2 separate regions of the Homo sapiens genome follow, and region 1 is linked to region 2. Evidence: fine-mapped expression QTL. A gene starts in region 2. The other region holds a variant in brackets. All regions are shown on one strand. Distances are between the middles of the regions. Region 1 has its middle 4.7 kb from the start of GIMAP6. Region 2 holds the start of GIMAP4 (GTPase, IMAP family member 4).

Evidence for each region. PIP is the estimated chance that this variant, and not a neighbour inherited with it, causes the effect. A credible set is the group of variants that fine-mapping cannot tell apart.
Region 1: its variant is the best candidate, but not a certain one, in a credible set for the expression of GIMAP4 in non-classical monocytes (Schmiedel 2018, PIP 0.52).

Annotation. Positions count from the first base shown.
Region 1 is chr7:150,635,604-150,638,516 of GRCh38, reverse strand. No RefSeq gene overlaps it. Among named protein-coding and RNA genes, the nearest start is that of GIMAP6, 4.7 kb to the right of the region's middle. The variant T/C (reference allele first, on the strand shown) is at 1,657.
Region 2 is chr7:150,565,676-150,568,588 of GRCh38, reverse strand. GIMAP4 (GTPase, IMAP family member 4) reads right to left here and starts at 1,199. Exons shown (of 3, transcript NM_018326.3): 1 at 1,152-1,199.

The sequences.
Region 1 (2,913 bases), 70 kb before region 2:
AGGGATGGAGAAAGATTTACCAAGCAAACGAAAAGCAAAAAAAAAGCAGGGGTTGCAATCCTAGTCTTTGATAAAACAGACTTTAAACCAACAAAGATCAAAAAAGACAAAGAAGGGCATTACGTAATGGTAAAGGGGTCAATGCAACAAGAAGAGCTAATTATCCTAAATGTATATGCACCCAATACAGGAGCACCCAGATTCATAAAACAAGTTCTTAGACACCTACAAAGACACTTAAGACTCCCACACAATAATAGTGGGAGACTTTAACACCCCACTGTCAATATTAAACAAATCAACAAGACAGAAAATTAATAAGAATATCCAAGACTTAAACTCAGCTCTGGACAAAGAGGACTTAATAGACATCTAAAGAACTCCCCACCCCAAATCTACAGAATATACATTCTTCTCAGCACCACATAGCACTTATTCTAAAATTGACCACCTAATTAGAACTAAAACACTCCTCAGCAAATGCAAAAGAATGGAAATCATAACAAACAGTCTCTTGGACCACACTGAAATCTAATTAGAACTCCGGATTAAGAAACTCACCCAACTGCACAAGTTCATGGAAATTGAACAACCTGCTCCTGAATGACTACTGGGTAAATAACGAAATTAAGGCAGAAATAACAAAGTTCTCTGAAACCAATGAGAACAAAGACACAATGTACCATAATCTCTGGGACATAGCTAAAGCAGCGTTCAGAGGGAAATTTATAGCACTAAATGCACACATCGGAAAGTGGGAAAGATCTAAAGTCAACACGCTAACATCACAATTAAAAGAACTAGAGAAACAAGAGCAAACAAATTCAAAAGCTGGCACAAGACAAGAAATAACTAAGATCAGACCAGAGCTGAAGGAGATAGAAACACGAAAAACCCTTAAAAAAATCAATGAATCCAGGAGCTGGTTTTTTTTTTTTTTTTGAAGACATTAACAAAATAGAACAGTAGCCAGAATAATAAAGAGGAAAAGAGAGAATAATCGAATAGACACAATAAAAAATGATAAAGGGGATATCATCACTGATCCCACAGAAATACAAACTACCACCAGAGAATACTATAAAAAGCTCTATGCAAATAAAATAGAAAATCTAGAAGAAATGGATAAGACTAAACCAGGAAGAAGTCGAATCCCTGAATAGACCAACAAGAAGTTCTGAAATTGAGGCAGTAATTAATAGCTTGCCAACCAAAAAAGCCCAGGACCAAAAGGATTCACAGCTAAATTCTACCAGAGATACAAAGAGGAGCTGGTACCATTCCTTCTGAAACTATTCCAAACAATAGAAAAAGAGGGACCCCTTCCTAACTCATTTTATGAGTCAGAGTCATCCTGATTCTGAAACCTGGCAGAAACAGACACACACACACACACACACAAATTTCAGGCCAATATCCCTGATGAACATCATTGTGAAAATCCTCAATAAGATACTGCCAAACCAAATCCAGCAGCACATCAAAAATCTTATCCACCACGATCAAGTTGGCTTCATCCCTGGGATGCAAGGCTGGTTCAACATACACAAATCAATACATGTAATCCATCACATAAACAAAGCCAATGACAAAAACCACATGATTATATCAATAGATGCAGAAAAGGCATTCGATAAAATTCAACACCCTTTCATA[T/C]TAGAAACACTCAATAAACTAGGTATTAATGGAACATATCTCAAAATAATGAGAGCTATTTATGACAAACCCATAGCCAATATCATACTGAATGGGCGAAAGCTGGAAGCATTCTCTTTGAAAACTGGCACAAGACAAGGATACCCTCTCTCGCCATACCTATTCACATAGTATTGGAAGTTCTGACCAGAGCAATCAGGCAAGAGAAAGAAATAAATGGTATTCACATAGGGAGAGAGGAAGTCAAATTGTCTCTGCAGATGAAATGATTGTATATTTAGAAAACCCCTCATCTCAGCCCCAAAACTCCTTAAGCTAATAAAAAAACTTCAGCAAAATCTCAGGATACAAAATCAATGTACAAAAATTACAAACATTCCTATACACTAATAATAGACAAGCAGAAAGCCAAATCGTGAGTGAACTCCCATTCACAATTGCTATGAAGAAAATTAAATACCTAGGAAACAAGTTACAAGGGATGTGAATGACCTTTTCAGGGAGAACAACTACAAACCACTGCTCAAGGAAATAAGAGAGGACACAAACAAATGGAAAAACATTCCATGCTCATGGATAGGAAGAATCGATATTGTGAAAATGGCCATACTGCCTAAAGTAATTTGTAGATTCAATGCTATTTCCATTAAGCTACCATTGACTTTCTTCACCGACCTAGAAAAAACTACTTTAAATTTCATGTGGAACCAAAAAAAGAGCCTGCATAGCCAAGAGAATCCTAAGCAAAAAGAACAAAGTTCTGTAGACTTGTAGTACAGCATCACGCTACCTGACTTCAAAGTATACTACAAGTCTACAGTAACTAAAACAGCATGGTACTGATACCAACACAGATATATAGACCAATGGAACAGAACAGAAGCCTCAGAAATAACACCACACATCTACAACCATCTGATCTTCAACAAACCTGACCAAAACAAGCAATGGGGAAAGGATTCCCTATTTAATAAATGGTAGTGGGAAAACTGGCTAGCCATATGCAGAAAACTGAAACTGGACTCCTTCCTTACACCTTATACAAAAATTAACTCAAGATGTATTAAAGACTTAAACCTAAAACCTAAAATCATAAAAACCCTAGAAGAAAACCTAGGCATTATCATTCAGGACATAGGCATGAAAAAAGACTTCATGACTAAAACACCAAAAGCAATGGCAACAAAAGACAAAATTGACAAATGGGATCTGATTAAACTAAAGAGCTTCTGCACAGCAAAAGAAACTATGATCAGA
Region 2 (2,913 bases):
ACAATCCATTCCTTTATTAATTAATATGTAGTGTTATAGAAACATGGTATTAATTTTAAATGTTTTATTTCATTGCTACCTACAAACATTTTGCAATGGAGAAAGATATTTGAAGAACTCTTATTGGAGCAGACTTTGAACAAAACAGGCAGAAAATGGTAGTTGTTAAAGACAGAGTCACCTCATAGGAAGCCAACAAATATGAAACACTGTGAAAAGCCAGATATTTCTTTTGAATGACTATTTCTTTATCCTTCAAGAATAGGGTATAGGAAACAGCTTCTTGTAAACAAGAGAAATCATGGCATTTTTTAAAAATCAGCTTTGGTGGCTGGTGTTAGGAGAGAGGATAGGACACCAGCAAGAAGAAAACAATACTGTGACATTCTGGGTTTTTGTGACATTCTCTGGGTGTTTCTTCATATCCTCCTTCTAGTGTGTGGGCTCTTTAATGCTGCTCTGCTGTTAATAATTCAGAGGCAAAGCCAGGAGACTGTGCTTCTGTAGGTGCTGACTTCAGGTGGCTGAATTCTCCTCTCTCTGCCTAAGGAACAAGCACCCATCAGCATCCAGCTTCTCCTGAACTGTAGAGAGTCACACCAGGTGGCATCTCCCTCCTCCTACCCGCTAAAGGGGAGCTCAATGCCCAGTAAACCCAGGACTGTCCCTGAGGAGACAGTTTCCCTAACGGGCAGCTCCGAGCAGACAGTTAACCCTGTAACAAGACCTCAGACTGCAGAGCCTCCAATCCTGACCTGGGTGCAGTCTTTGTGGGGCCACATATGGAGCTGTGCCCCTTACACATCCCAATGTTCCTCTTCCCACCAGCTCCCCCAGAGCTAATTCTGTCCGCTCACCCAACTTTATCCCTGGAAGAATCAAAGTTTCTATATAAATTCCACAACCAGCGAGAGGAAACATTTATTTGTAAAACAAGTATCCTCTGAGCAGCAATCTCTGGAAGAGGCATTGATTTGTAGGGCTCAGCCTTGAAAACAGATCACAGCCTAAAATTAGCAAAGCCAGGAAACGGGAACCAGCGAGAATATAGTCTGAAAACATGTTTACCAGACGATTTAAGATACAGGTCCCTCCTCACCAAAATCGCACATTCGTCCCGACCCCCACCACACACACCCCTATTCCCTTACCTGAAAAATCAGGATCTTGCACCCCTCTCTGATTTTGCACACAATACTAAGCCAGGATGTTGAGAAACAGGAGAAGAGAGGAAGTGAGGGGAGGAGCTGTCCAGATTTACTTGTGCAAGGGACCTGCCCACCTGATCATCCAGCAGCTCTAATAGAACTTTCTGCAGGGATGGGGTTGTTCTGTGCTGTCCAAGATGGTGACCCTTAGCCACACGTGACTACTGAGCGCTTGAAATGTGACGAGTGTGATTGCAGTTCTGAATTTTAAATTTTATTTTGTTTCAATTTATTTAAAGTTAAATAGCTACTCCATTGTCAGAATTCTAAAAGGCAAAGTCAGGCAGAACAACTTGCACCAGGCATTTTCCCCAGAAGGAAAGAAGGAATATTCAGCTTGGTATGCCTGGTGGCTACCATACTGAACCTTGCAAAGGCTCTGCAGTGAGACAAAAAACATGGGTCATGCTGTGACATTCTGGAAGAAACTTCTGGGCCAAAACTAGAGAGTTATCAGTTATTCTGAAAGACCCTTGAGCCCCTGAACCCCTGCTCAGCACAACAGGCCTCCCAGCTAAGCCCCCATACCCCTTTCTCCCAGTACCTCAGGTATGTCCTCTGAGTCCACAGTGTGTCCTTATTTCCAGGGTATGTCCATGAGTCATCTGCTAGAAGCAAAAGAGAGTAAATGACTTTCACTGGACTGACTAGGATGGGCCCAAAATTCACCTCCTGAGATGGTCCTGGAACCACTGAAATATTCTAAACACTGACATCTGACACTACTTACCACTAAAATGGAAACTTTGAGAGTATTGTAATGGGGTCCCAGCTCACCGTTATAACCAGTTATTTTTCCATTGTAAAAGGGGTCTCAATTTACCATTATACCCCACAGCTGAGACCTTATTTAGAATTACATAGCACTTTAGTAATTATAAAATTGCTAATAATTCTAAAGAGAACTGTAAGAGAAAGACATACATTTCTTTGAGGATAGAATGTGATTGGCCCTGGGTATACAAGCACAGGATGGCTACACTAAAAAGCAGAACAAGGCAATGGAATACATCTTGCACCAACAGTAAGGATAATTTACATTCCAGAGCAACATGACTTAAATAACAAAGACCACTTGGTCCCTTGGTTTGACAGGCAAACGAAGGCAAGTCCAAAAGAACAGGCAGCATGAGAAAGCATCTCCGCGATTCTGAACTGAGATACCTTAAAAGACTAGGATTATATTTTGTTTCTGAAGCCTAAACCTGGCTAGAAGGTATATATTATTCTATTTAATTACAGAAATTGATGCAAAATATAGTATTTATTTTTAGTACTATTAAAGCACTGGATCATTACTTAGGGAATCTTTATTCAGGTTACAGGGATCACTGCAGTAGGAAAGTTCTCTGTTAGGGACTACATTTGCAGTGAGCACCACGTTTCATCTAATGCTTTAACAATAAAGCAATGTGTAGACAAAAATGTCTACATTAAAGATCCAGAAATGAAAACAATAATTTGTGATACCACATTAAAAATTTAGAAAAGGAACAGCAAATTGAACCTAAAGTAAGGAGGATGAAGGAAATACTAAAGGGAAGAAATCTTGAAACAGAAAAAAAAAATAGAGAAAACCAATAAAATCAAACATGAATTCTTTGGAAATAATTAATAAAATTGATAAGCCTCTATCTACATAAATCAAGAAAAGGGGCAAAACATACAGTATACAAGTTATTAATATCAGGAATGGGAACGAGAT